7 linked regions of the Homo sapiens genome follow. The protein of the gene in region 1 purifies or fractionates together with the protein of each later gene. This does not show direct contact. Each region holds a gene or a part of one and is shown in the gene's direction. Other genes may lie near its edges. The genes, in order: RASSF8, CREB3L2, ZNF639, POC1A, PLEKHA5, NLN and UACA.

What was found.
Region 2: the proteins of RASSF8 (region 1) and CREB3L2 purify together in Homo sapiens (co-immunoprecipitation; one large-scale study listed by IntAct). This does not show direct contact.
Region 3: the proteins of RASSF8 (region 1) and ZNF639 purify together in Homo sapiens (affinity purification with mass spectrometry; 3 studies listed by BioGRID and IntAct, with this or other methods). This does not show direct contact.
Region 4: the proteins of RASSF8 (region 1) and POC1A purify together in Homo sapiens (affinity purification with mass spectrometry; 4 studies listed by BioGRID and IntAct, with this or other methods). This does not show direct contact.
Region 5: the proteins of RASSF8 (region 1) and PLEKHA5 purify together in Homo sapiens (co-immunoprecipitation; one large-scale study listed by IntAct). This does not show direct contact.
Region 6: the proteins of RASSF8 (region 1) and NLN purify together in Homo sapiens (affinity purification with mass spectrometry; one large-scale study listed by BioGRID and IntAct). This does not show direct contact.
Region 7: the proteins of RASSF8 (region 1) and UACA purify together in Homo sapiens (co-immunoprecipitation; one large-scale study listed by IntAct). This does not show direct contact.

What each region holds. Positions count from the first base shown.
Region 1 is NC_000012.12:25,956,913-25,961,940, forward strand, and holds the start of RASSF8 (ras association domain-containing protein 8), read left to right. Parts: upstream 1-1,769; 5' UTR 1,770-2,236; intron 2,237-2,413; exon of another isoform or gene 2,414-2,530; intron 2,531-5,028.
Region 2 is NC_000007.14:137,904,079-137,908,514, reverse strand, and holds part of CREB3L2 (cyclic AMP-responsive element-binding protein 3-like protein 2), read left to right. Parts: intron 1-78; coding exon 79-263; intron 264-2,666; coding exon 2,667-2,813; intron 2,814-4,436. UniProt on the Homo sapiens protein: Transcription factor involved in unfolded protein response (UPR).
Region 3 is NC_000003.12:179,332,095-179,336,056, forward strand, and holds part of ZNF639 (zinc finger protein 639), read left to right. Parts: intron 1-894; coding exon 895-1,029; intron 1,030-1,174; coding exon 1,175-2,328; 3' UTR 2,329-3,962. UniProt on the Homo sapiens protein: Binds DNA and may function as a transcriptional repressor.
Region 4 is NC_000003.12:52,143,700-52,148,135, reverse strand, and holds part of POC1A (POC1 centriolar protein homolog A), read left to right. Parts: intron 1-1,040; coding exon 1,041-1,148; intron 1,149-2,174; coding exon 2,175-2,290; intron 2,291-4,436.
Region 5 is NC_000012.12:19,370,243-19,374,262, forward strand, and holds part of PLEKHA5 (pleckstrin homology domain-containing family A member 5), read left to right. Parts: intron 1-479; exon of another isoform or gene 480-3,441; intron 3,442-4,020.
Region 6 is NC_000005.10:65,826,187-65,830,412, forward strand, and holds the end of NLN (neurolysin, mitochondrial), read left to right. Parts: 3' UTR 1-3,097; downstream 3,098-4,226. UniProt on the Homo sapiens protein: Hydrolyzes oligopeptides such as neurotensin, bradykinin and dynorphin A. Acts as a regulator of cannabinoid signaling pathway by mediating degradation of hemopressin, an antagonist peptide of the cannabinoid receptor CNR1.
Region 7 is NC_000015.10:70,658,343-70,662,778, reverse strand, and holds part of UACA (uveal autoantigen with coiled-coil domains and ankyrin repeats), read left to right. Parts: intron 1-2,562; coding exon 2,563-2,628; intron 2,629-4,436. UniProt on the Homo sapiens protein: Regulates APAF1 expression and plays an important role in the regulation of stress-induced apoptosis. Promotes apoptosis by regulating three pathways, apoptosome up-regulation, LGALS3/galectin-3 down-regulation and NF-kappa-B inactivation.

The sequences.
Region 1 (5,028 bases):
CTCTGCCTCCCAGGTTCAAGCGATTCTCCTGCCTCAGCCTCCCAGTTGCTGGGATTGCAGGCATGTGCCACCATGCCCGGCTAATTTTGTATTTTTAGTAGAGACGGGGTTTCTCCATGTTGGTCAGGCTGGTCTCGAACTCCCAACCTCAGGCAATCTGCCAGCCTTGGCCTCCCAAAGTGCTGGGGTTATAGGCATGAGCCACCGCGCCCGGCCAAAAGGCAGAAAGTTCTAAGAAGGAGAGGTCAACATTGGCAAATGCCACAAAGGGCACAAGATGGGAATTAAATTTTTCCATTAGATTTGGCAATTAAGCAATGGCTGATGTTGTTCAGTGGAGTGAAAGGCTGAGAAGGGAATGAGAGGTTAGGAAACATTCACCTTAAGGCTAGGCAACTCCTTTGAAAAGAGTCAAGTAGGGTTAAGGGAGGATCCATGCCCTCCAGGTTGACTTTTAAATCATATTCCCTTTGGTTTTGCATTTGAATCACAGTGAACTTTCTCCTCTCCAAATGTTGATTTGACAAATTTGAGTCTTACCATGGCTCTCTTCTCAGTCCACCTGCAGGTCAAGGAACTAATGAGGTGTGGAGTAACTAAAGGTCAAAAAACAAGAGGAAGAAACAAAGGGCCAAAAAACCCCAAACCTTAAATCAGGTCCTGAGTCAGATACGCTGTAACAAATTCTGCTTCAAGTTTAATATTCTTGTTTTGATGATGTTTAAAAAAAGAAAAATAAAAGCAAGTGTCTGGAAAATTAAAAGGCGGGGTGGGGGGGGGCATTTTAATTGGAATGCTTTCTTGTATCTCATCCACTATCCGCACCCCATCGCCCTGCAAATTAATAGCTGTTGCGGAGTTGGGGTATGTGTGACCACAAAATCCAAAGGCTGAATTTTGCCCAGTGCCTGAGTAATTGCATGCCACACACAAAAAAACAGTAGAATATTGAAAACAACATACACATCTGTATTTCCATATGAAAGCACCCGTTTCCTTTCTTGATTATCTGCTATTTTTAAAGGGGTTGGGAGTGCAGCGGGGCGGGGGGATGAGGCGTTTTTTCTGAATACGAGCCCAGCTCTTTCTAAACTTTTGTTACTCACGTCCGTTTGATTCATTTGCTGTGTTTTTTCTTTCTTTCTTTTTTTTTTTCCCCTCTCCTGCCTCTGTCATTGCCTGCTGCTAAGAGGGACGCTGAATCACAGCCACTGCAGATGAAAAGCAATTCAAACCCAGTCCTTGGAGGGGGGATGGAACGGCTCTTTTTGATTTTTTTCCCCTCTGCAGAAAAAGCCTCCTACTTTCCGGGTGACCGTAGAGGGCAGTTTGACAAGTCTCAGCCCCGGGCGATGGAAGATTTTGCCCGTGGGACCGTCACGAGCCACCGGTCATCTCCCCGCGCCCGGCTTTCGGGTCCTCAGGCCTCGGTGCGTCGCGGGCCAGGCGACAGCGGGGGGGCGTCGCGGGCCGGGCGAGCGTGGCCCGGTGGGCCCGAGGGTCGCGCCGAGCTCCCCGCCGCTTTAAAAGCTCCCACAATGCAGCGCTGGCGTCCCAGTTCCGTTACGAGGTCTCTCCCGGCGCCGGCGAGCGGGCCAGGCGCGGGCGGGGCGCGGAGGAGCGGCGGCTGAAACCCGAGCGCCCGGCCGAGGGGGGCGCCCCCGCGCCGCTCCTCTCGCGCGCTCAGCCGCTGCCCGGCGAAGGGGCGGAGCCGCCTGGCCGCCCGGCCCGGCCCGGCCCGGCCCGGCCCCCAGCCCGGCCCCCAGCCCAGAGGCACCGGCCGCGGGAGCGAGCGGGTCGCCGACTCCTACGCCCGCGCTCCTCCTACGCCCGCGCTCGTCCGGCGCCCCGCGCCGCGCCCCGCTCAGCGTCTGCCGCCCAGCTCCTCGCCCAGCCTCGCCGAGCCTCGCCCTTCCCGCCCGCGGCGGCGTTGGCGCTGGGGGCGGCTCCCGCGGCGTCTCTGCCGCTGGCCGAGCGCTCGCGCACCGCGGCACCCCCGCCAGTGGCGTCCACACTCACCTAGCGCGGGCCGGGAGGTGCGCGGAGAGGGAACGCCGGGGGGCCGGGGCCTCCAGCCGGTGCGGGGCGCGCGGCGCGGGGAGCGCCGGGGAGTGCCGGGGAGTGCGGCGCGGGGACGGGCGCTGGGCGGCCGCGGAGCTCCGGGTGCCGCCGCGTCCCCAGCGCCCCGGCCGGCCCCTCTGGGCGGCCTGCGGGGGCGGCGCAGTTGCGAAACTGAGTAAGTATTAACTTTACTTAGCGGCGGCGATCCGGGCTGCGCCGGGGACCCCGCCCGTCCCGCCTGCAGCCTCGGAGCTGCCCTCCGCCCGGTTGCCCCTCTCTCCGCACCTTGGGTACCTCGTCCGTTCCGCCCCCACCCTGCCCCGCCGCGGGCTCCCGCTCCCTCTGCGTTCACCTTTCCTGGTGTGTCACCCTTTGCGCCTCTCCTCGCGGCACACAAGCCGCGGACTGAAAAGTACGAGCTTGGTCTTTGCTTTTCTGCTTCCTCCCAGTGTCCTTGGCAAGGGAGTTTAGAGGCCACTTTTCTTGCAAAGGGAATTTTATGTCTGGTTTTTAAAATATTTTTTCCTCCGGATGGAAATCGGATGCTCGCTTGCCGGGTGGCGGTTTGGTGAACGCTTTTCTCCTCTAAAAAAATATTGGTTTATAGGTTTTTAAATTTCATTTGAACTATTAACCATCTGCATTCTATTCTCCTTTGCCGCCAGTCCCTTTGGGGAGGGGAGTCCAGAAGAGGGGACGTTCAAAGTAATTCTGACTTGCAAACTAGAAAGTTTGAGAGGGTAAATCGCACAAAGCCGGAAGATTCAACTTGAAGGGACGCGAGCTTTGAATGTGGGTCCTGGTGCGGCACTGGGTTTTAAAAGATGAGTACTTGGGTTCGGAATCCAGTGTTGCGTTGTTATTTTAGCATCATAGAGCCGCCTGGTGTTGCTAAACCACTACTTTCCCAGCCTCAAATGGCATCTTGAACAGTGCAACGTAGGATATATAATTGCGGGTCAATATTGTTGCTGATCTTTAGGGATTTAGAAGCGAAATGAATGCAAATCACGTCTCATAGCTGACTTAAACCTGTCAGGTTAGCCCTGTCAGGTTAGCATTAAAGCATTTCATTAAAAAAAAAAATCCTCTAGCCCTGTGACAGCAGGGACGAACATTTATGGATTTTCCAGTAGATTGTGGCTCAGCAATTCATTAGATCTGCTTTGTCCCCAGGAAGCATTTTAAAATATGTATAAATCTCTGCTTTTCTCTCCATTAGATTAACCACTCATTCTGGTAGGGGGCCCCAGGTAGTTTTTATTTTCTTTTTTGCCTTTCATCTTGGAGTTGCCAGGAGTTGCCATCATGTTATGAAGGAACAGAAAATGAGAAGCTTTCTTAATGGGTTTTCGACATCCTGTCCTTTGCCAGAGTGAGGCGGTAGTGAATGCCAGCCAGCTTTCTGCAGGGAGAGGTGCAGGGTGGACGCAAAAATCAGGACGCAGGAGACAGCACTATCATTTGGGGAAGTGGTTTGTGTGAGTTTTATCTTTTAGCGGGCATACTAATGGTACTTTTAATTTTATTTATCTCTATGAGGCACACTCCCCAAACCATAAAATTACACATGACCATCCCCCACTTGAAGAAGACTGAACATAGTTTGATGATTATTCTATTCAAGGATCAAGTACAACAAAATATAATTTGTAATACAGATGATAAAACCTTTCAAAAATCTCCCCCTTCCTCATTTTTTTCCTCAAGAGTCTCCAGGTGGTACTTTCTGTGATGGACACAATTGGCAGTAATGCACTGAGTTCTTTCTAGGTTTATTGATCAAATCTTATGTCTGGGCTTTAGTAGCTTAGGGGTGCATTAGAGGGCCCTGAGAGGGAGCAAATCATGGGGCTGTGCAGGCAGGAAAGGCACTTCACTTTGCAGAAGTGTCAGTGTGCTTCTGGAAAAAACAGTTACAAAGAACAGAGAGTGTTTAAGTTGTTTATAGGATGCATGTTTCCTGAATTTGGCATTTGGTTCAGATATTTGGTAATTACAGATTTAAAATTCGACATGGTTGTATAATTTGTTTTGCCTTTTATTTATTTTTTTAAGGTTGCAACCTTTTAACCTGAATCTTCAGTGTTTGGCTCTTGTAGGCTTCTATACGTGGTGACTTACGTCAGTTTTTGACCTGACTGCCTTGTGTTTTGAGAAATGATTAGTTCTTCAGGGTTTCTGACTCATTAATTGATCTGTTTTATGTTGATGTATATAATGACTTGGAAGTAAAAATATTGTTTGCCGTGGGATATTGTTGTCTTTTTCTTATGGTTAATTCCTGGCATAATGGCTTTGCTCCTTTATTATAAAACATTAAGATCTTAGATATCTTGCTAGTGTTCAAAACATTACAAAACTCTTTGCAAGTAAAAGTGGAGTGGGAATGGGAGTTGGATAGAAAAACATGCATCATAAATTAAAGATTTGGATTACAAAATAATATAACGTTTATTTACTCTTCTTTGATGCTAACTTGCTCTAACCCTAAATAGACTTAAAAATTCAAAGTGTAGAGAGAGTTTCCAAGTATTCTGTATAGTGGAAAGAATGTTTACCCCACTGCCAGCCAGACTTGGGTTGCACGTGTGACTTTGTCACTCCCGAGGTGAGTGAGCTCGGCCATGCCACTTCAGCCTCTGTGATCTACAGTTGCATTTCTGGAAAATGGGGATACCACTACTTAAAGGGATGCTATGGTGAGTAGAACATCTAATATATATTAGATGTGCCTGGCACATTTCAGCCAATAAATGACAACATCTCAAACTCCTTCAGAATTGAGCTCTTGGTCACTCAAACTTTCAAACTGTTCCCCCTCCATTTTTCATCTCATCCATCCAAGGAGTAGCTCACTCCACTCTCTCTTTTCTTCTATCAGCCCTAGCAAACCAGTCCATCATAAAGTCCTGCTGTCCATTTTTATTGCAAAATCTCTTTCAAACCGGTCTGATTTTCAGTCCC
Region 2 (4,436 bases), on another chromosome or scaffold:
TTAGTTTGCTATGCCACAAATCAGTTGTGTCCTGCTTTGTGGCTCTGGGATGGATGAGATGTGCTTCCTTTTTTGCAGCCCCAGTGGACCACCTGCATTTGCCGCCCACCCCTCCGAGCAGTCACGGCAGTGACTCAGAGGGCAGCCTGAGTCCCAACCCACGCCTGCACCCCTTCAGCCTGCCTCAGACCCACAGCCCCTCCAGAGCTGCACCCCGGGCCCCCTCCGCCCTCTCCAGCTCCCCTCTCCTCACGGCTCCTCATGTAAGTATGCAGCGGGCATTCCTGGACCAAAGGGAACCCTCTCCATTCATTCCCCTGGGGCTGTATCCAGAGCAGGACCACTCAAGGCTGTTTGGTTTTTACTTTTGTCAAGAAGTTTCTGCTTAATGGCGAAAGCAGAGTGATGTCAACCCTAAAGAACACTTTCTAGGAACTGCCCGCACATCTCACCTTTTACTACCACAATTCTCTTCCTTTTCACATGCACACTTCCAGTTTTTATTCATATGTTTATTTTACAGAGCTATAGACATGAGGAATAAAAATTTGGGGTTTTTCTCCTCAAAGTTCTATCATAAATATTTGCATTAATTTAATGGTCCTTGTGACCTATGTCATAGGAAATACCTTTTATATTTTAAAGAAGCAATTTTTGGTGAACTTAAAAATTACTCTGAGATTAATTTCTTTGATGCCTAAAGGTCAAAAACAGTTTAAGCCTTTTCTGTGTGTCATATGACTCTTAACCCAGAAACTCAGATCAGACATCAAGACCCCTCGTTCATCCCTCCCATACATGAGGACACCATAATAAAGAAGAATAGATCGTTAACTCCTTATTGTTCTAGGAGTGAATTGATTTCTATGAAATTTTAAAAATTATAATCAGCTATTTTGAATTCACAATCTCACAACTAGAAAATTTAAATGAAATGAGATGTTTTAAAATTCTGTAAGTACCATCCGTCCATTAATTAACATAACTTTGAAAATTTGTATTGATTCTGTCCCTGAAAGTTCTAGATCTGCAACCACATTCTTAAATTTCATCGTTACTGAGGACAAGGGAATTCACCCTTCCACTCTTTCTTCACCTTTTCACCTTGAACCTGACTTCACTCCTTGGATTACTAGAATAGCTTGTATCCTATATACCTGTGTGTACTACTATGATCTGTCCATTCTACATGTTTATGGAGGAACTCTTCCCCATGTCGGATGCTTGCCCAACAACTATGTTGTATTTCCCTGTTACTTGTTGGTACCAAGCCCTGACACCTTTACTCATTATCAGGTATCCAACCCTCCGCTGCTTCAAGAACTCCTTACCCACACTAGGCAGTGGCTTCTTCAGTGACTTTTCAAAATACTGCCTTTTGCTTAGAATGCACTCCTCTCTCTTATGTAAATCATCCCCTTTCTTTCAGGAGGCCCAATTCAAATCTCATCTCCTGCCCTAAACGTTTCCTGATCACACAACTCATAGTAGTGTTCTCTTACTTCAAATTTTTAGTACACCTTTAGCTAATGTATTAGTCCATTTTCATGCTGCTGATAAAGACATACCCGAGATTGGGCAATTTACAAGAGAAAGAGGTTTAATTGGACTTACAGTTCCACGTGGCTAGGGAAACCTCACAATCATGGTGGAAGGCGAGGAGGAGCAAGTCATGTCTTACATGGATGGCAGCAGGCAAAGAGAGAGCTTGTGCAGTGCAACTCCTGTTTTTTAAAACCATCAGATCTTGTGAGATTCATTCACTCTCACAAAAGCAGCATGGGAAAGACTCACCCCATAATTCAGTCATCTCCCACTGGGTCCCTCCCACAACACGTGGGAATTATGGGAGCTATAAAATGAGATTTGGGTGGGGACACAGAGCCAAACCATATCAGCTAAGATTACAGTTTAGCATTTAATTACTCTTATCCTTTCATGGGTATCAGTTCAGTCTCACAGTCTTGATCACAAGCTGCTTGAGAGGTAGGGTTTGTTTTGAGTCCTCCATGGCATTTAGTATGGAGCTAAAATGCAATAGGGACTCTGTTTGATTAATTATAAACATGCCATTCTACTGTGGGTTCCATGAGATGTGCTACTGTTCTTGTCTTCATTGTTGATGGACATTCTGAGACTGCTGAAGCCAGAGGCTTCTGTGGAAAGAGTCTGCAGATGTGTCCCTGGGTGCTCTGCACTCTTAGCTAAAAGTGGAGGAGAGAATTGACTCCTGTTGTGTAGAGAGCACCTTATAAAACTGCATTTTCAGAAGGAGAACAACAAAATTCTTGCACAAAGCAGGGCTGCAAATGAATCCTTCATCACTCCAAGGCCAGGAAATCTCTAGGGATGTGGGAAATGACTTCTCTGCTTTTTCTTTTCATGTTTTAGCGAGTAGGGTGCTTCCCGGGAAATAATGGGTGGAGGCTTCTTTATTCTTTCCCTTGAATTATAATCCCTAGGTTATAACACTCACATGGGGGTGTCTTCCCCATCTTCCCATGCCCTTCAAAATACCCATCTGTCACCCAAAGCAGATGGGGCATCCTTGTCTCAGAGCCTTCTGTAAGACATTGTAACAGATTCTCATCATCCCATTGGGAGGTGATTCTTCAGTGGTCCCAGTTCTTTTTCTTTGACCCTTTTCTGCTCCTTGGTCTGCACAGAAACTGCAGGGATCAGGCCCTCTGGTCCTGACAGAGGAGGAGAAGAGGACCCTGATCGCTGAGGGCTATCCCATCCCCACCAAATTGCCCCTGTCAAAATCAGAGGAGAAGGCCCTGAAGAAAATTCGGAGGAAGATCAAGAATAAGGTGAGCTCTTCAAATCTAGGCACTTCTAGAGCAGAGACGAGCAGAATCGAGTCAGCATCCCTTTCCCTGCCTTCCCAACGGCCAGCACTACCCCATCCCATGGTGGAGACCAAGGCCCAGCCCTTCCCTTCCCTAAGCCCTGGGAGGAGCACCCTCACCACGTGCCCCTCTCTTCCTCCAGCCCATCCCATCCCTCTTGAGGCCAGCAGACTCCCAGATCAGTATCTACCTCTTTGGTGCCCACGATGATACATTTACGGGTGGGAGGAAGCTATTAGAATTTCCATCTAGTTTTTTTTTTTTTTTTTTAACTCAGCCTTTTAAATTTTGGGTGTATGATATATACAATAGTTTCCTCTAGTAGACATATATATGTACTCTATGTATCTATATAAAATACAGCATATATATATATTATATATATATAAGATACAAATACATTGCAAGTGCTTGGTTAATTTTTTTTTTTCTTGGTAGGGTTTTGTGATCACAAAACTTCTGCAGTTTGCTGGTCTATATTTGGACTCAGTAGTCTCCTACCCCTGGGCCCCTCAGTGCTGAGCAGGCCTGATGAAAACCAGGGGGATGGCTGAGGCACAGGCCTACCAGGAGGGAGGGGGCAAAGAGGGAAGGAAGACAAGAGCTTAGTGTCACTCTATCCATGTGCGGAACCAGCAGCAAGTTGATGTATGACCAAGCCAGCTGTCTTATTTTATATATGTACTTCAGCCAGCAGAGGTCCAGGAGTTAAACTCATTTATCTGAGACCACACTGATGGTTTGTGAGCCACATGTTCTGGCCTGGCTCTTCACTCAGTGTCCATTGTTTTCTTTTCTTTTCTTTCTTTCTTTTTTTTTTTTTTCATACAGAGTCTCACTCTGTCACCCAGGCTGGAGTGTAGTGGCATGATCTCGGCTCACTGCAACCTCTGCCTCCCAGGTTCAAGTGATTCTCCTACCTCAGCCTCCCAAGCATCTGGAACCACAGACGTGTGCCACCATGCCCGGCTAATTTTTTTGTTTTTTGTTTTTTGTTTTGAGATGGAGTCTCTCTCTGTCACCTAGGCTGGAGTGCAGTGGCACAATGTCAGCTCACTGCAACCTCTGCCTCCCGGACTCAAGCGATTCTCTTGCCTCAGCCTCCCAATTAGCTGGGATTACAAGCATGCACCACCGCGCCCAGCTAATTTTTGTATTTTTAGTAGACGGGGTTTTACCATGTTGCCCAGGCTGGTCTTGAACTCCTGACCTCAGGTGATCTACCCGCCTTGGCCTCCCAAAGTGCTGGGATTACAGGCTAGAGCCACTGCGCCTGCCATTTTTTTGTATTTTTAATGGAGACAGGGTTTCACCATGTTGGCCAGGCTGGTCTCGAACTCCTGACCTCAAGTGATCCGCCCACCTCAGCCTCCCAAAGTGTTGGGATTACAGGTGTAAGCCACTGCTCCTGGCCACTCAGTGTCCATTTTACTGGTGGCCTGGTTTGTAGGAAAGTAGGTGTGAGTTTGGCAGCTAGAAACCCGGGAGGACAGACTAGTCAATGAACCAGCAGCTTAAACAAATGGCAAGCAGCTTGCAGAAGTAAGCAGGGCTTTGGTGACTTCTACGCTAACCACCTCCCAT
Region 3 (3,962 bases), on another chromosome or scaffold:
GGTATCCTGGAACAGAAAAGGGACATTAGGTTAAAAACTAAGGGCATTTAGATGACTTTATTGACTTTTATTAATAAGTTACCAGTATTGGTCATTAATTGTAACAAATGTGCCACACTAATGTTAGATGTTAGTAGTGGAGAAACTGGGATACATGGGACCTCTCCATACTATCCTCTCAGATTTTTCTGTAATTCTAAAACTATTCTAAAAAATAAGGTCTATTTTAAGAAAACATGATGGATGGGCTGAGTGTGGTGGCTCACGCCTGTAATCCCAGGTCTTTGGGAGGCCAAGGTGGGAGGATCGCTTGAGGCCAGGAGTTCAAGGCCAGCCTGGACAACATAGCAAGACCCCATCTCAAAAAACAAGAATTACCCGGGCTTGGTGGTGCATGTCTGTAGTCCTATCTACTCAGGAGGCTGAGGCTGAAGGATCACTTGAGCCCAGGAGTTTGAGGCTGCAGTGAGTGAGCCATGATCATGCCAGTGTACTCCAGCCTTGGCAGACTGAGCAAAACTTGGTCCCTCGCAAAATGTTGAAGCCCAGTTTTCACTATTAACCTGTATTTCAGTTTCCCCATGCTAACTTTGAAACACTGGGGCTGGCCTGAGGGTATAAAGGCTTATTCAAACTCAGTAATTTAAACTTAAAATCCTAAGGAACTTCAAAAAGTGTAATCTAGTCCAAATGGGGCATCAATTCTAAAGCATTTGCTTGTTTGAGCAGATTTTCTGTGTCTGAGGTATATAGATAACTTATCTTTTTATGACTAAATCCAAGTCCTTAGTTCCTGTTGGAATTCAAAATCATATTTAAAAATTGATGCTTTGTTCTATAATTAATGCTTTGATTGTATAAATAATAAGTATTCTTCCAAATCCCTTTTTACAGATGATGATTCTGATACCGAGACGTCAAATGACTTGCCAAAATTTGCAGATGGAATCAAGGCCAGAAACAGAAATCAGAACTACCTGGTTCCCAGTCCTGTACTTAGAATTCTAGACCACACTGCCTTTTCTACAGGTTGGGGGAACTAATTTATAGCATTGATATATTTTGTATTGGTGAATTTTAAAAAAAGTGCATGCAATAAATTTTTTTTTGCCCAGTTGTATTTAACAGATCTTATTTAGTTATAGTCATATAATAGGTTTGTTTTATTCTTCAGAAAAATCTGCTGATATTGTAATTTGTGATGAAGAGTGTGACTCACCTGAATCAGTCAACCAGCAAACCCAAGAGGAGAGTCCTATAGAAGTTCACACTGCTGAAGATGTTCCAATTGCTGTAGAAGTGCATGCGATTTCTGAGGATTATGATATAGAGACAGAAAACAATTCCTCTGAGAGTCTCCAAGACCAAACTGATGAAGAACCGCCAGCTAAACTTTGTAAAATTCTTGACAAGAGCCAAGCTTTGAATGTGACTGCCCAGCAGAAATGGCCTTTACTGAGAGCTAATAGCAGTGGCCTCTATAAATGTGAACTTTGTGAGTTTAACAGCAAATATTTTTCTGACTTAAAGCAGCATATGATCCTGAAGCATAAACGTACTGATTCAAATGTGTGTCGAGTATGCAAGGAAAGTTTCTCTACCAATATGCTTCTGATAGAACATGCCAAACTGCATGAAGAGGATCCCTACATTTGTAAATACTGTGATTATAAGACAGTAATTTTTGAGAACCTCAGCCAGCACATTGCAGACACCCATTTTAGTGATCACCTCTATTGGTGTGAACAGTGTGATGTACAGTTCTCCTCAAGCAGTGAACTCTACCTACATTTCCAGGAGCACAGCTGTGATGAACAGTACTTGTGTCAGTTCTGTGAACATGAAACTAATGATCCAGAAGACTTGCATAGCCATGTGGTAAATGAGCATGCATGTAAATTAATAGAGTTAAGTGATAAGTATAACAATGGTGAACATGGACAGTATAGCCTCTTAAGCAAAATTACCTTTGACAAATGTAAAAACTTCTTTGTATGTCAAGTATGTGGTTTTCGGAGTAGACTTCACACAAATGTTAACAGGCATGTTGCTATTGAACATACAAAAATTTTTCCTCATGTTTGTGATGACTGTGGGAAAGGCTTTTCAAGTATGCTAGAATATTGCAAGCATTTAAATTCACATTTATCTGAAGGGATTTATTTATGTCAATATTGTGAATATTCAACAGGACAAATTGAAGATCTTAAAATTCATCTAGATTTCAAGCATTCAGCTGACTTGCCTCATAAATGTAGTGACTGCTTGATGAGGTTTGGAAATGAAAGGGAATTAATAAGTCACCTTCCAGTCCATGAGACAACTTGATTATTCTCTTTAACTTACAGAATGTTAGTTTAAAATAATAAATTCATCCTTTTTTTGGAGATGATTAAATGGATGATTGTAAACACAACTTATGAAATCTGCCTTTAACAAGTAACTTTTTTAAATTATAAAATTTTATTGGCATTGCTCCATTTTCTGTATATAAATATATCTTTAATGTGGTATTTTCAATTGCGTGATAGTTTGTAGTTTCAACCACTCTTGGTGACTGTCATCCTGTTTCTTCCATATTCTCTGATTTCATGAATTGAAAAGAAACAAATGTATTGAAGAAGTGAGCTACAGTTTTCCTTCCTTAACCATGGGTGCTAGTAACTTTTTAAAACTCAAGACAAGATTAGTTTTTTATGTGTGAAGTCATTAAATTATTACACGACCAGAACTAAAATGCAATATACAGTTAAGTCCACGGATACTCCCATTAATGAGAAATAACACTAGGAAGCCACTATTACAGGAAGAAAAGATTTGGTTTTCATGGCAGTCTGTTTTTTTAAAAAAAAATTTTTGAGCCACTATCTATTGTTGAATATTTTAAGATGGGATGAGGGAGGAACTAATAAGGGCTTACACAATAAAAAATAACTATATCATAACTCATTCATAACTTGATGTTTCATTTTCTGTTGAGGAACCATAAATTCATTCACAGACTTAATATTTTTTTCTTAGAGATGGTCTCGTTCTGTTGTCCAGGATGGAGTGCAGTGGTTGATCATAGCTCCCGGGCTGTAGTCTCCCAGGCTCGAGCAATCCTCCCACTTCACCCTCCTGCATAGCTAGGACTACAGGCATGTGGCACCATGCCCGCTAAGTTTTTAAATTTCTTGTAGAGATGAGATCTCGCTATGTTGCCCAGGCCAGTCTCAAACTCCTGGACTCAAGCAATCCTCCCACCTTGGCCTTCCAAATCACTGGGATTATAGGCATGAGCCATTATGCCTGACTCTTGCCCAAATTTCTGATGTCAAATTGTTCATTGACAGAAAACCCACTGAAGTATTTAAAGTTAGGAAGATCTGGGAGATAGGGGTTGCTGGCATGAAAATGTATAACTTACAACATTTATTAATAAAATGATAAATTAGCATCAATATTAGTTCGTATGGCTGCCATAACAAATTACTACAAACTGAGTTGCCTACCTAGCAGAAATTTATGGTCTCACAGTTGTGAAGGCCAGACATTCAAAATGGAGTTATTGGCAGTTGGTTCCTTCTGAGGGTTGTGGGGGAAGGATCTGTTTCAGGTCTGTCCTTGGCTTGTAGATGGATAGCCTCATGTTCACATGGTGTTCTCCCTGTGTGCAAGTCTGTCCCCCAAATTTCCTCTTTTTTTTTTTTTTTTTGCTTTTTTAATTTTTTGAGACAGAATTTCACTCTTGTCGCCCAGGCTGGAGTACAGTGGCGCGATCTCAGCTCATTGCAACCTCCGCCTCCCAGGTTCAAGTGATTCTGCTGCCTCAGCTTCCCAAGTAGCTGGGGTTAACAGGCGTCAGCCACCATGCCAGGCTAATTTTGTATTTTTAGTAGAAACGGGGTTTCACCACGTTGGCCAGGCTGGTCTCAAATTCCTGACCTCAGGTGATCCACCTGCCTCAGTCTCCCAAAGTG
Region 4 (4,436 bases), on another chromosome or scaffold:
CCCAGAGTAATGACACTGATGGTGAGCTTTTGGCCACCTTTATGCAAATGTTGCCGGCAGGCAGTCGGCTGCATGTTGCCATGTGCTGTGCGTCAGGGGCAGTGCTGGGGCTTTATGTGCATGAGGCTGCTCTGTGCTCACTCGTGAGGCAGGCACCTTTTTTTTTTTCTTTTCTTTTTGTTTATTTATGTTTGGTTTTCCTCTAAGTCAGGAAGAATTTCTCTTTTTCCCTTTTGGTCAGAGTTTGCTGTTGGGATGGGAGAGGGGCTATTTGCTCATGAAGCTACGTAAGAAAACGAAAACAAGAGCAACAGGAAAGATCAATAAGTTTCACAGATTCAGGAAGAAAAAAATAAAGGAAACATTTTTATAACATTTAAAATTAAGTCATAGGCCGAGCTTGAAGGTGCATGTCTGTAATCCTAGCACTTTGGGTGGATGAGGTGGGAGGATCCTTTGACTCCAGGAGTTAGAGGACCAGCCTGGGCAACATAGTGAGACTCCCATCTCTACAATAAAATAAAATAAAATAAAATTAGCTGGGTGTGGTGGTGCACGCCTGTAGTCCCAGCTGCTCAGGAGGCTTAGGTGGGAGGATCTCTTGAGCCCAGGAGGTAGAGGCTGCAGTGAGCTGAGATCACACCACTGCACTCCAGCCTGGGTGACAGAGCAATACCCTGTCTAAAAAACAAAACAAAAACAAAAACAAAATTTAGTCACAGTTTCCTGAAAAACTCTTCAGAAGGAAAAAAGAAAAATGATGTGCTAAAAGTTAACTATTTTCAGAAACAAAGTATAATTTAAGATATGACCAAATAAACAGAAGTAACATTGCCTCCTAGGATGCAATGCATTTGTTCCTGAAAAGACAAATTAGGGTATTCAAATTAAAAAAAAAAAAATCACAGCAGGGCATGTGACCCCGGGTGGTTCCTGCAGGCAGATAGTAGGCACTCGGGGAAGAGTGGCTGTGGAAGAAGGTGTGTGGTGCCCATGTCGTCTGTTAGTCTGTGATGTGACTTGTGCCCCACCCGGTTCAGGTTCTCCCCCGACGGGCGGCTCATCGTGTCTGCCAGTGATGACAAGACTGTTAAGCTGTGGGACAAGAGCAGCCGGGAATGTGTCCACTCGTATTGTGAGCATGGCGGGTGAGTCCCCAGATGCTGTCCTCCACCTGTAGGCGCTCAAGCACAGAGCACAGACCTGGGCATGAGGAGGCCCAGTGGCCTTCAGTGGCTGGAGCCGTGGGACCAGCAGCCTTATCACTGCTGCCCCTTGTCTGGTGCTTTTTGCGAGGTCTGGCAACCTAGCATTGTATCTTTTGCTGTGTGGATGGAAGCTTTGGCCCCATCCCACAAATAGCAGGAGTGCTTAACCTCAAGCCATGCAATTCTTTGGAGCTGTGTAATTATTTGTGCTCCTCTTTTTCTCCTTCACTTTCTGGTTGTCAGGATTACAACATGTCTGTCTGGCAGCAGTTGACACTCAGTCGCCCAAACTACATTTTAAAGCCTCTTGGTATGTTATCCATGATGATGGCTTTACAAAATTCTTGTTGGGTTCTTGTAGCAGATGGTGGCTGTTCATATTGTGCCACATCATCAGGAGAGAGAGGTGCCTACATTTGAGTAGAGACCCCAGCTTCTGCCCTTCTTTGTTGGGCTGGGAGCCACAAGGGCTTCTCCTTGAGAGGTGGACATGGTACCAGCCTGGGTATCACATATGGGTGTGGTGAGGGTCCTTGGCCTGTCTCCTAGAAAGGGGTGGGCCAATGGCCCTGTAGTCCTGCTGGACCTTCCCACCTGTGCCTCAGCTGGCAGGATCTGCCCTGCAGCCACCCCTGGGAAGGGTACCAGCTCCAACTTTGAAAATCCCAGGGGAGCCTGGCTAACTTTTGGGTTTGAAGATAGCTCTCTCAACTTGTATTGAAAATTGGCGGTGGGATGTGCTCCCTGGTCAGTCCACCTTAGTTTGTTGCTGGCCACTGTTCTCACCTTTTACTTCTTCTTGCTCTCCCTTGGCCACCTGGTAAACAAGTGTGACAGAAAGGAGGTGTCTGGGTCAAGGGAACAGCGTGGGCAGGACACAGGGATGGGGAAAGCACCAAATGTTTCTGGGTCCGTCCTGAACCAGGGCAGACCTCCTATAGTGCATAGTGGCCCCTGTCTTTCCAGCTTTGTCACCTATGTGGACTTCCACCCCAGTGGGACGTGCATTGCCGCTGCCGGCATGGACAACACAGTGAAGGTGTGGGACGTGCGGACTCACCGGCTGCTGCAGCATTATCAGTGTGAGTGGTGAACAGCCTCCTGGGCCCAAGGGCAGCCCTGGTGGGACTGTGATGGTGTTGGATGTTGTCCTGTGCTGTAGTGCTTAAATGGGTCTGAGATGGCCTTGGGCAGGAAGGTGTCCTGGGTTTGTTGGGATTCCAGGGGTGGGAGTCTGTGGCATGGCTGGCCTGGCTTGGAACCTTGGCCAGGAGATGGAGCCTGGTGCTACCTGGCTTCCACTGAGCCAGTCAATGCTCACCTCCGAAGTGGCAGAATCTCACACATACTGCAGGGCCAGATGGGGAGTCCTCACTGGGGCTCTGGTCAGGGCTTCCCTTGAGGACCACTTCTCAGGGGCATGCCACTTGCCTTTCCTGGTGATGGAGGCTCTGCCCTCCAGGGCCAAGGTGACAGCCCTTGACCTGTGGTAAAGGGAACAGGGCTGTCAGTAGAGGCCAGCATTGGTGGGACCGTGGCCACCTCTGGTCTTACAGTGTCCTCCGCAGATGTAGAGTCATAGGGAGGGTTGACTTAGCTAGGGGCCAGGCCCAGGATGGTAGCCCTTGGAAGGCAGGGTGGCGGGCAGTGGGCATGGGCTCATGTCAGGCTCCAGGTGGGAGTTGGAGGGCGAGGGCAGACTTAGACATGCCCAGGATGAGTTCGCTGAGAGTACTGGGTAGGGAACTGGCCTGAGAGCAAGTATGAGTGGGCAGGGCCATGAGGCGCCCCAGTTCCAGGGATGGGCTCAGGGAAGGGAGCTGGTGAGGGGTCATTGGAGAAACTGGGAATTGTGTAGCTGGCAAAACAGAGATGAGCAAGACTGGACCAGGGCCGAGACCAGGAAGGAGGCAGAGCTGGAGTTGTTTGAAGAACCGTGGTTGTTAACCTGGGACTAAGCTTAAAGTTCTTGGGCTCGCTTCCTTAAGCCACACCTGAAATGGGAAGGACATGGCTGGACACAGGTGTGGGGTTCCGACCCCACCCACCCCTGACACACACACACCCTTCCTAGCTGACTCCTGGTGTTCAAGTACAGCACTTTCTTTGGGGTAACAGAGGTGAGCACACCTTCCCAGAATGGGGAGAAGATCCTAATCTTGAACAGCACATGGTGGAGAGTGGGCTCTGCAGCTGGCTTTTAAAGCATTCCTGGCTGTGTGATATTGGGCAGGTCATTTGACTCTGTGGGGCCTCTGGGACAATGATGGGGCCTGTCTCACAGGAGGTGTTGGGAGGTTTAATGAGTTGTTTCATATCAAGAATTGAGAGGGTGGCTGGCACAAAATGGGGGGAAGGAGGTACAATGTTAGTGATGATGACAATGACACTGTCTTGGTCCTGTCTGGGCTGGTGAGGCCAACCTGGTTGGTTAAGGCCTGTAGTACCCTACAGCACCACCAGGTGGCAGGGGCCAGCCACAAGAACCTGTTCCCCCACCCCACCCCCCTCCATAGGAAGCCCTGAGGTTTGTTACCAATGCTCTTTCAGACAGAGGCTTCTGGAACAGAAGAGCAGTGGGGCTTGCCTCCACTTGGAGCCCATATCTTTCCTATCCTTCCTTCAGCCTTCTGCTCTGGGCCAGGCCTGAGTGAAGGGCTGGGGCTTGGGGATGGGGCACATCTGCCCAGCTGCCTGGGGAACGTGGGCAGGTGCAGAGGAGGGAGGACTTGGACAGGGAGAGATGGGAGTGGAAGGCGACGAGGCAGGACAGTGGTCAGGAGCACATGCTGTGGTTCCTTTCTGTAAAGGGGGTGGCAATAGGCCTTCCTCATGGCTTTGTGAGGCTCTGATGGGAAAAGCCACAAAAGGGTTATAACACAGGGCTAGGTATGTGGTTTGTGCTACATAAGTCCTGACACTGGGCAGAGAGGATGTCTAGGTGACCCTGGGAGGGTCCAGACCCATCTCTGATGGATCAGGAGCCTGGGCCTGGTGTTCATGGGTATAACAGCAGGTACCCCTTGGGAAGGGCCTTGGATGCCATCTCTGGCTCGGGGTCCCAAAGATGTGGCCTGATTGGCAGTGCTAGGACTAGCCTCGTCATTTAAGGTATGAAGGGAAGAAGGACATCTGAGAGGATAGCGGTGTCCAGAGCCTGCTGGGGTTGGGGGCTGGTGTGCCCCATGTGTCCCAGTGATGGGTAGGTGTCCAGCTGTGCCTGGTATC
Region 5 (4,020 bases), 6.6 Mb from region 1:
CCAACTTGATGGAATATTAAAATCTTTAATGTCTATCTGATATTATTTCTAAGTAATTGAATTCTATTAAGTCAGGGAGGTAATTACTAAAACCATGGATGGTATCAGGGAGAAGAAGGAATCCTTTCTTGAACAATGTTCCTTAGAGCACAGATTTATAATTGAGAATAGTTTCCTGAATTCTTACTTTTAAACTTTCTAGACAATTGCTAATTTTAACCTAGAATTTAGTACTTATAGCGTACTCTAAAAGTTTTTTAACTTTTTATAAAAGCTCTGGTGTAGAGTAAGAATGTTATGCCTTTTTCTGCATTTTCTTTCTCACAGCATCTACCATATCTAGTAAGTTTGGTGCTTTAGGATTACCACCATTTTCTGCTGAACAGCAGCAGAAACATATAGAGACATTATAAGCATTAGTACTAACATCTTTTTGTTTTTTTATTTTCTTGTTTTTTTTATGTTATTTCTTTTTTCAGAGATGTCCCCCATGCTGGAGTGTAGTGGCATAATCACAGCTCACTGCAGCCTTGACCTCCTGGGCTCAAGCAGTCGTCCTGCCTCAGCCTCACAAGTAGCTGGGATCACAAGTGCACGCCACCACACTCGGCTGATATTTCGATTTTCTTATAGAGACAGTCTTACTAAGTTGTCCACGCTGGTCTCAAACTCCTGAATTCAAGCTACCCTCCCACTGCATGAGCCACTGTGCCTAGCCTCTTTGATTTTCACATTCTCAAAATATTTCTTTTATTTTCTCTCCTTTTTTTTTTTTTTTCGAGGCAAGGTCTTACTCTGTCACCCAGGCTGGAGTGCAGTGGTGCAAGATCATGGCTCAATGGCTCACTGAAGGCTGACCTCCCAGGCTCAAGCAATCCTCCCACCTCAGCCCCCTGAGTAGCTGGGACTACAGGTGTATGCCACCATGCCAGGCTAATTGTTTTGCAGAGATGGAGTTTTCACCATGTTGCCCAGGCTGATCTCAAGCTCCTGAGCTCAAGTGATCTGTCCGCCTCAGCCTCCCAAAGTGCTGAGATTACAGGTGTGAGCCACCACACCCAGCCTTTTTTCTTCCTTTTCAAGCATTTTTTAAATTTCACTAGCTTTGGGTACAAGTGGTTTTGGGTTACATGGAAGAATTGTATAGTGGTGAAGTCTGAGATTTTAGTGCACCCATTACCCGAGTAGTGTATGTTGTACCCAATCCTTCACCGACCTTCCACCCTCTCCCTTCTGAGTCTCCAAAGTCCATTATACCACACTGTATGCCTTTGCATACCCATAGTGTAGCTCCAACTTATAAGTGAGAACATATGATATTTGGTTTTCCTTTCCTGAGTTACTTTACTTAGAATAATGGCCTCCAGCTCCATCCAAGTTGCTGCAAAATACATTATTTTGTTCCTTTTTATTGCTGAGTAGTATTCCATGGTGTATATAAACCACATTTTCTTTATCCACTCCTTGGTTGGTGGACTCTTAGGTTGGTTCCATACCCTTGGAGTTGCAAATTGTGCTGCTATAAACATGCATGTGCATGTATCTTTTTTATGTAATGACTTGTTTTCTTTTGGGTCGATACTCAGTAGTGGGATTGCTGGATCAAATGCTGGATCTACTTTTAGTTCTTTAAGGAATCTCCACACTGTTTTCCGTAGTGGTTGTACTAGTTTACATTCCCACCAGCAGTGTAAAAGTGTTTTCTTCTCACCACATCCATACCAACATCTGTTGTTTTTTGACTTTTAAATTATGGCCATTCTTTTTTTTTGTTTTTGAGATGGAGTCTCGCTCTGTCAGCAGGCTGGAGTGCAGTGGCGTGATCTTGGCTCACTGCAACCTCCTCCTCCAGGGTTCAAGTGATTCTCCTGCCTCAGCCTCCCCCGTAGCTGGGACTACAGGCGTGTGCCACCACACCCAGCTAATTTTTGAATTTTTAGTAGAGATGGGGTTTCACCATGTTGGCCAGTATGGTCTCGATCTCTTGACCTCATGATCCGCCCACCTCGGCCTCCCAAAGTGCTGGCGTGACCCACTGCACCCGGCCAATTATGGCCATTCTTGCAGGAATAAGGAGGCATCTCATTGTTGTGTACCTTCTTTTGAGAAATGCCTATTCGCGTCATTTGCCCACTTTTTGATGGGATTATTTGTTTTTGTTTTTTTTTTCTTGCTGATTTGTTTTGAGTTCCTTCCAGATTCTGGATATTAGTCCTTTGTTGGATGCATAGTTTGCAAATATTTCCTCCCATCCTGTTTTCTGGAATCTACTTCCTTTCACACCTTATTGTAGGAACTATAATCTGTGCCCTTTTTTTCAGCCCAAAGTATTTTGTTGTCTTTTCATATTTGTAACTTTTATTTGAGATTATGTCTACCTGGAACCTCAAAGAGGCTTCTGTTTTTGTCAGTTGGTATCTGTGCAGGACTGAAGTGCTTGCTGGAGAGTTACAAATAACCTAACTGTGATAGTCTTACCTGTGTTCTGCCTTTGTCACTTGTGTTTAAGCCTTTTTTCTTTTTTCTTTTTTCTTTTTTTTTTTTTTGTTGAGACCAGGTCTCACCCTGTCACCCACACTGGAGTGCAATGGTGAGATCTTGGAGCCTTGCCCTCCTGGGCTTAAGTGATCCTCCCACGACAGCCTCCCAAGTAGCTGGGACCACACGCCTGTGCCACCAAGCCTGGCTGATTTTTTTGTATTTTTTGTAGAGTAGGGGTTTCACCGTGTTGCCCAGGCTGGTCTCAAACTCCTGAGCTCAAGCGCTCTGCCCGCCTCAATCTCCCAAAGTGCTGAGATTACAAGATTGAGCCATCACGCCTGGCTATGTTTAAACTTTTAATTTAATATGTTTAGAAATGACTGTTGAGGCCAGGTGCGGTAATGCCAGCACTTTGGGAGGCCAGGGCTGGTGGATCACTTGAGGTCGGGAGTTCAGGACCAGCCTGGCCAACATGGTAAAACCCCATCTCTACTTAAAAATACAAAAATTAGCTGGGCATGGTGTCAGGCGCCTGTAATCCCAGCTACCTGGGAGGCTGAGACAGGAGAATCGCTTGAACCTGGGAGGCAGAGGTTGCAGTGAGCCGAGATCACACCATCGCACTCCGGCCTGGGTGACAGAACAAGACTTTGTCTCAAAAAAAAAAAAAAAAATCTGGGTGTGGTGGCCCACACCTGTAATCCCAGCACTTTGGGAGGCCGAGGCAGGCAGATCACCTGGCTCCTGACCAGCGTGACCAACATGGAGAAACCCAGTCTCTACTAAAATTACAAAATTAGCTGGGCGTGGTGGCACATGCCTGTAATCCCAGCTACTTGGGAGGCTGAGGCAGGAGAATCGCTTGAACCCAGAGGCAGTGGTTGCAGTGAGCCGAGGTCGTGCCATTGCACTCCAGCCTGGGCAACAAGAACGAAACTCTGTCTCAAAAAAAAAAAAAAATGGTGACTGTTGCTACTGGTGACGTAATAACACAAAACATAGGAAAAATAAACATTGGACTCATTTGATTTCATCTATGTAAAGACTTGATGACCTCTTAGTAGAAAAATGTATACATTAAGAGCCATTCACATAATATTTTGATTCAATAAACAGATTATGACTGTACACATATCCTTCCAATAATAAAGGATATTCAGAGTTAAAACTCAAGTATATTTCCAGGTTCCTTAAATTGTTATAGGATTTTATTTTGTTTTCTTCTTATTCCAAGAGCAGTGGCATACTGTAATGAGGTATGATTATTGTCGGATATTTTCTAGTCTCATGGTATGCAACTACCACAAATAACTAAAGGCATGAAAACTTGTATTATTTCATATCTTCCTATTATGCATATGCCATCTTTCTGAACTAGTGGTTTTGGCAGGATTTAGGAAACCTTTACAAATGACACTACGATGTAGGCAGCTCAATAATTATTACGTATTTTAGTGGAGTTATGCAAATGTTTGCTCATTTTGTTGATCTTTTGGATTCAGCTACGTTTGGTACTTTTTTTTTTTTTTTGCAGTTGCA
Region 6 (4,226 bases), on another chromosome or scaffold:
ACATAAAGGGTTTAGAAACTTCTGCAGGCAGCAGTGGCAGGGAGCAAGCCCTAGAGTGTCTCTTTTTACGAGAGCAGGAATCCCATCATGAGAGTTCCTTCCTCATGACTTTATCTAAACCCAGTCACCCCCAACAAAGGCCCCACCCCCTAACCCCATCACATTGGCTGTTACGGCTTCAATGTAGGGGATGGGGCACAAACATTCAGTCCATAACGAATACTGATTCCTCAAATAGGGTTTAAACATAGTTAACTGAGCCCCCAAAGAATGTTAAAAGAGAAAATCCATTTTATTTGAATAGATGCAGTGACCACAGCTTCTTCCCTCAAATCAACACATTACAGTTAGATGTCTCCCATCTGAAATTGGATAGCCCACTGAAATTGAACATGCCTTCTCTTATAAATGTGTGGTGAGAATAAAAGCAACAAAGAAATGAATGTGGTGGCTCACACCTGTAATCCTAACACTTTGGAAGGTTGAGGCAGGAGGATCCTTTGTGCTCAAGAGTTTGAGACCAGCCTGAGCAACACAGTGAGACCCTGTCTCTACAAAAACTAAAAAAATTAGCTAGGGATGGTGGCACATGCCTGTAGTCCCAGCTACTTGGGAGGCTGAGGTGGGAGGATTGCTTGAGCCCAAGAAGGTCAAGGCTGCCATGAGCCATAATCACGCCACTGCACTCCAGCCTGGGTGACAGAGACCCTGTCTTAAAATAAAATAAAAAAAAAAGGAAAAGGAAAGACATACATACCCTCAGTTCTTCGAAAAACAGTCAACGTCCAAAAAGTTTATTTTTTGAGTCACCTTTAATAGAGAAATTTCCCACTGGAAACAGATCCACCTAAGTGATTATCTAGTATCAGCTGTATCAAGGCAAAAGGTAAAGGTTATAAGATGTAAATATTAGACCAAAATAGCCTTTTTTAACAAACACAATAATGCTGTACGTCTGTAACAAAACAAAATTTGAAAAATTGAGGTAATGTACACAGCGATGCACACACCCCCACACCACACCGTGATTCCTGAGTTTTGATTTGGTTGAATTCACCTTGTAGTTCCCTTTCCTGAGAAAATACAGGTTCAACACATCTAGTCCACGATGTACGTACAAGGGGAAGGGGTGAACAGGAAATAGACTCCCTTATTCTGCTCACATGAGCTGGAACCTGTACTAGCTGCATATTTCATAGACCCCAGAGGCTCACCTCAATTGTACTCCTATGATAAAATGTCTCTAGCATTTGTCATGAGAGAAACTGGCTAGAAATAGTTTGTTCATTGCGTCCAGCAAGACACGCATTGCTGTTGATATCTTTGTGGCTAAGATGGAGAATGTGACTGGATAATAGTTATCCAGGTGGATTACTAGCTATTGAAACAGTCTGAGATAGTTGCATGATGATTAACGTTAAACTGGGAGTAATTTCAAGTCATTTGGCTAAAAATGAAAAAAAAGTCCCATAAAAAGGTATCAAATGTACAGATAATAGGGCTGGAATTATTAAGTATGATGATGTTATTAACATCTAAAATTATTTTGGCCGGGCAAGGTGGGTCACGCCTGTAATCTCAGCACTTTGGGATGCCAAGATGGGTGGATCACCTGAGTTCAGGAGTTCAAGACCAGCTTGGCCAACATGGCGAAACCCGTCTCTACTAAAGAATACAAAAATTAGCCAGGTGTTGTGGCACATGCCTGTACTCCCAGCTACTCAGGAGGCTGAGGCAGAAGAATCATTTGAACCCCGGAGGTGGAGGTTGCAGTGAGCCGACATTGTGCCGCTTCATTCCAGCCTGGGCAACAGAGTGAAACTCTTGTCTCAAAAGTAAAAAAATAATAATGTTTAAAAATATTTCAATGTGGAGACAAGCTCAAAATGAAATTAGACACATTCCATTACCCAGGTAAAAGAAGGGGAAGCCTGACTTGATAGTAGTATTCAGGAAAAAAGAGTTGGCAGTTTTATTTGGCCAAATTCCAATATCAGCTCATGGTACAGCACACCGGGGGAGGGGGACGGGAGGCGAGAACTAAGGCTTTTTAAGAATGTGTTGATGGAAGTATGTGCCTAGATCAAAAGAATAATCCCCCCGGACTCCAGTGTAAGATCAATTACTGTTGGAATATTGTGTTCCTTTCTAGATATCACATTTTAAGCAGACTTTGGCCAAGTAGTACAGTGTTTGCAGGAGCAGTAACAAGATGGTGATAACTTTGAAAATACTTCTCAAAAGAAAAATAAAAAAGAATTAGGGAAGTTCAGTCTGGAGATAATTCAGAAATACAGATGATAATTGTTTTCAAATTCTTGAAGGAAATGGGAGAGAGAATAGGCTAATTCTGTATTGCTTCAGAAACCAAATGGAAACAATTAAATTCCATTAGAGAAACGGTTGGAAAATATGAGGAGGATTTAGTTCAGTACGAGGAAGCTGTTTCTAATACTTTTTGTTGGTTAAAAATACATTCCGCTGCTGTGGAAAGCCTGTAGCTGCCAGGAGTGTTACAGAGGGCATTCCTCCCTTGAGTTGACATTTGTGCCAAACCGGCTTTTAGGGCTTCTCCAGCTTTTAAGATGCGATAATGATAAGATGATCATCGGGAAAACATCCCTCAGATGAAACGTTCACAGGCTGGCTCTGAAAACTGGCATTCAGATGATTGCGGCTCCCCCATACTGTAGGAATATTGTTTATGGCTTAAGGTTGCCTCGCTCCTCATCTGTAATCAGTGAAAGTTTATCCAGAGGTTAATTACCGGTTTTCTGGTGGGTATCTGGGAACTGAGGATGGGAGATTAACTGTTGTATATGACCATAGTAAAGCAAAAGACTGTTAGAGAATGAGTAAACGTTCGTTTTCCTCCCTACAGAATTTACAGTTACTCTCTGTCCATTCCACTCACTACTGTCTTCATCACACACACAGAGGCAAACGTCTGATTCAGATAGCCAGGTGTGCCATGCATGCACTCCACCATATTGTGATCTCTTCGAGGCTTGTTTCTGTCCCCTGTCCTCCACAGTCCTGGATTGTTAATGAATAGTTCATACATGTTTGTTAAATAAATATACCTTCTTTAAAATTATCTTTTGTTATAAAGATGCCTTTTTCTATGGTAACTGCAAAATACCTAATTTGTAACTAAACCTAAAACTATGTGGATAAGTTATTTCTACACCTGCGGGGGGCAGATTTCTACATGAGAGTCCTTTCTTAGTGTACTGAGAGTTTCTGCATGAGGTAAATGAAAGAAACATGTTTTTTGTAAAAAAAAAAAAAAAGAAAAGAAAAAAATTGGCAATGGAGAACGTTTCTAAAGCTTCTCAGCTTCTCCCTATGATTATGTATTGAAACCTCGGAATTTGTTCATCTGGTTTTCTTGGGGGGTCTATGAAAAGGGCAGAGCAAGCAGATGTCCCATGATTGCCCTGAAATTATATTAGATATGTTCGTGTGCATGGATACCTGCATTTTTCTAGGGATAGAGTCCTTAGCTTTAATCAGAAGAAATTAAGAACTACTGTCTTTAAAAATGTGCTTTCAAACATTTGTTTTTTGAATTCATTTCAAAGACTCTAACGTGCCCATTATGTGTCAGGCGCTGTGCTTGGCAATGAGGATACAAAAAGACACCCCAGAACTGGAGCTGCTCACAGTGGAGTGGAGAAGGCAAATGAGTTCATAATTTATTGGGATAAATTATAATAGAAAGGCATGTATCCAAAACTTTTCTGTGTTTTCCCCTCAACCCTGGTTGACTCCACTATACAATTTGACTGTGGTGCCACAAAATTTTACATAGTTACCACGCCACCTGCCACCGCAGGCTTCTATTTTTAACAAAATAATTGCTTTTCTCTTTTCAGCATTTCAGGAGTGGGACCAAATGGTGTTCTATATCTGGTATATCCAGGAGTTTCTTAGATCTGGTAGTTAAAGGGCTTATAAAAAAGAGATGAAAATGTTCACTTTGCCACTTTTGTGCAAGTGGTTATAAATTGACAGCCATTAGAAGAATGATGTGGGACCCCTTTTAAGCTGATATGTATTAGATAGCCAAGAGGCATTGGTACATCCTATAAGTCTAGAAAACAGGTTGTTAAAATAATCACTGAGTTGTTTAGAGATGGTCCAGATTAGTCAAGATTTCTTACTTCCTGTTCCCAGCAACTTTTTTTTTGAGATGAGATCTTCCCATGTTGCCCGGGCTGGTC
Region 7 (4,436 bases), on another chromosome or scaffold:
TTAAATAGGGAATGGTTTCCCCATTTCTTGTTTTTGTCAGGTTTGTCAAAGATCAGATAGTTGTAGATATGTGGCATTATTTCTGAGGGCTCTGTTCTGTTCCATTGGTCTGTATCTCTGTTTTGGTACCAGTAGCATGCTGTTTTGGTTACTGTAGCCTTGTAGTATAGTTTGAAGTTAGGTAGCATGATGCCTCCAGCTTTGTTCTTTTGACTTAGGATTGACTTGGCGATGCAGGCTCTTTTTTGGTTCCATATGAACTTTAAAGTAGTTTTTTCCAATTCTGTGAAGAAAGTCATTGGTAGCTTGATGGGGATGGCATTGAATCTATAAATTACCTTGGGCAGTATAGCCATTTTCATGACATTGATTCTTCCTACCCATGAGCATGGAATGTTCTCCCATTTGTTTGTATCCTCTTTTATTTCATTGAGCAGTGGTTTGTAGTTTGCCATGAAGAGGTCCTTCACATCTCTTGTAAGTTGGATTCCTAGGTATTTTATTCTCTTTGAAGCAATCGTGAATGGGAGTTCACTCATGATTTGGCTCTCTGTTTGTCTGTTATTGGTGTATAAGAATGCTTGTGATTTTTGCACATTGATTTTGTACCCTGAGACTTTGCTCAAGTTGCTTATCAGCTTAAGAAGATTTTGGGCTGAGATGATGGGGTTTTCTAGATATACAATGATGTCATCTGCAAACAGGGACAATTTGACTTCCTCTTTTCCTAATTGAATACCTTTTATTTCCTTCTCCTGCCTGATTGCCCTGGCCAGAACTTCCAATACTATGTTGAATAGGAGTGGCGAGAGAGGGCATCCCTGTCTTGTGCCAGTTTTCAAAGGGAATGCTTCCAGTTTTTGCCCATTCAGTATGATATTGGCTGTGGGTTTGTCATAGATAGCTCTTATTATTTTGAGATACGTCCCATCAATACCTAATTTATTGAGAGTTTTTAGCATGAAAAGTTGTTGAATTTTGTCAAAAGATGGGGTCTTCTATGTGGCTTAGGCTTGTCTCCAATGGGGTCTTGCTATAGGCTGATCTCCTGGGCTCAAGTGATCCTACTGCCTCAGCTTCCTGAGTATCTGGGACTATGCTTTTAATTATGCACTAATACACATTGAAATGCTAAGTAAAACGGCCCAGTCACATGTAAATTGTTGCTGATGTTTCCCTATTTCATAGAATTGTTTGAGTTATTTTTTAATAGAAGAAAGGTTTTTTGTTTTGTTTCTTTTTTAGTGTTTATTTTTTAACACTGTAGGCCTACAGATTAAGGATGGCAAATTGTGGATTTGGATCTTATCCAAAGAGTATAGTGTCCCTTTAATAATTGGAAATATTTGTTTATTGTTTATTATGTTCATGACCCTGTGCTAAGTGGGATAAAGAAAGTATGCCATTCCTGTCCCCAAGGAGTTCTGGGTAGTTAGAGAGGCAAAATACAGATTCATAAAAAGTAAAAATCACAAGATGAGAGATGTCAAATGTAGAACTGAGAATGCAGATTCTAAGTGATAGGGGTTTCCAGGAAGGAAAGATTAGTGGTGTGGTAGAAGCTAGTTTTTAAAGAAGGGAGTACCTGGCTTGAACTTGTAACGTAGATGCTATTTTGGTAGGTGAAAGGAAAGTAGAGGCTCTTCCATCTAAAGAAAATAGTGTAAAAGAAGCGTGGAGATGGAATACAAGTGGCATGGCCAGAGGGCAGTAAAAGCCCTGCCTGTAGAGTAGTCCCTCTCTTATCCACTGAGGGTATGTTCCAAGATCCCCAGTGGATGCCTGAAACCATGGATAGGACCTGCTGAATGAACCCTATATAAGCTATGTTTTCCCCCCAGATATACATACCTGTGATAAAGAGTAATTTATAAATTGGGCACAGTAAGAGATTAATAACAACATAATAAAATAGAACAATTATAACAATATGTTGTAATAAAAGTTATGTGAATGTGGTCTCTCTCTATATCTCAAAATATTGTATTATACCATGGGCAACAGAAATAGAGAAAGTGAAACTGCTCATCGCAAAACTGCCAATAAGAGGGGACTGCTGTATTTGAAAGTTAATGTTTGAAGCCAAACTGTGGAAGTCATTGAGAACCAAACTGATGAATTTGGATTCTCTCATGTATGTAAAGAAGTGTCACTCAAGGTTTTTGAGCCAAAAGTGATGTGAGGAAATAGGTACCTTAGTCTCAGAGGCATGGTAAGGAATATAGTGTGGAGATAGTAAGACAGGATGGGAAGCGTTTGCAATAATCCAGACATGTGATAAGTGTCTTCAGAAGTTCATGGCACTAGATATGAACTAAAGCAATAATTTGATGTTGCTTAGGGAAAGTAGCATTACTGTCATTAGCCACACATTCTTTACAGAAGTTTATATTGTTACGTTTTGAAATTCTGCATCTGGTAGGTCCAAGGTAGTTTGTTGTTAGAAGTAGCAGGATCGCCTTAATAATAATAATAGTTTTGTAGCATGAAGCCTGAGCATTGTCCAAAGTTTGGAAATGTGAACGCTGATAGTCACATCTGTCCATCTTTCCACATTTCTAGGATGCTGACAGACAGCACCAAGAAGTAATTGCAATTTATCGGACACACCTTCTTAGTGCTGCACAGGTAAAGAACTACTTCTCCTTTGGAAAGAATATTGCTTTAGAGATAATAATTTTTTATTTTCAAATAAATTTATGTGAAAGTAATTGATGTTTAAAGTAGCTGCACCCCCTATGCTTATTTAAAAATAATTATGTTTCTTTTAATCATTGTTTGTGGATCTCCCAGAAAAATTTACAAAGCTATATGGCAACACAACATCTTAAATTTAGTGTCGTCTCCATCTGCTTGTCACTCAGTTTATAGACAGTTTGGTAACATGTGATGGTAGCACACGTTAATGGTGTTGCTAGCTGGAGATAATGCCTTGACATCCACGTGTGGCTGTCATCTAAGAGGAGAGTGGGAATGGCTTTGAATACTAGAAAAGTACAAAAGTGACAAGCAGGGTGTTATGTGTATAGGATTGTAGTAATTAAAAATGATCTGTTTTACCAAGCCTTAACTTGGCTTGGTAAAGCCAAGGATTAATTAAGGAATAACAGTATGAATTCCCTTTTTTAGGGGTGTACTGAGAAAGTTATTGTTAAAATCATACTAAGAAATTACTAACATATAAAGGATACTATGCTTAATTTCCTGTAGAAACCCCGTGAGCAGCATCTTCAAAATTCTCAGAATAGATTTTTTTTCAGGAAGAAAATGTACTAAAAGAAACAAATTTTAGAATGACAGAGATCCTGGGAATTATTTGGATTTGAAGTATGTTAGGCCACACTGTAAAAACAAGCAAAAAAAAAAAAAAAAAAAAAAAAAAACAAACAAAAAATGAAGAAGGGAAAGATGGATGTTGAGAGAAAGCTTCAAAAAAAGAACAATTTTAAAAAGAGAACTAGATAAAATAATAAAAAGAAAGATACTTTATGATATCAAATTCTTAAAATCAATAGACCTGCCTCTTCTATAGGAAATGGAGGGGAAACTAATGAAAAAGAATGAATGATATGATAGAACAAGGGATCTTAGCTACTCTCTTTTGAGCAAATCAGAGATAAACTAGAATCTTAAAGTTTATTGCAATTATTAGAGAAGATTATTGAGGGACAGTGAATAGGAAGTTCAAGTGGGGAAATAGCAGAAAATCTGTATTAGAGAGGCTGAGAAACTCACTAGTATTGGCCATGAGAGGAAGAGGTTGCTCCTAATGAAAAATACAGCAAACTAACAAGCCTTTCCACTTTGTATAATATGCACTTCCGGAATTTGAAATTATTTTCTACTGTGTCCTAATGAAACATAACAAAAGCAATTGACATCAGAAATAGTCTTGCCTTCTGGCATCATAAAGTTAACTAAGAAATTCAGTTCAGTCAACTATGGCTAATGTTTGAAATGTAAACATCCTGCTGTTATAGAAACAGATTTTGGAAGCAAAACTTTTCATATTAATAGGAAGTGTTGTGCTGAAACCTATTTAAGTACTCCAGGAAAAAAAAAATGTGTGTGTTGGGAGGGGGTGCGGTATTTTAATAAGCCCACCATATTGAGTTGCATTTAATCAACTCGTGCCACCATTTTAAGTTTAAAGTATTTTTTAAAAATATAAATGGCTAACATGCATGTAAAAAAGATACTTGGTTTCATCAGTAATGGGGGAGATGCAAATGAATAAGAACATACCATTTTTCACCTGTGGGACTGGCAATATTACACAAGATTATAGTCTATCGTGTTAGCCAGAGTGTATGGGAAATGGGCATTTTCACTCCATTGATGGTAGTGTACAGATTGTTACAATCTCTGTAGAGGGAAATTTTGTAGTACTTAACAGAATTAAAAATTGAGACTGCTTTTTGACCCAGCAATTTCTT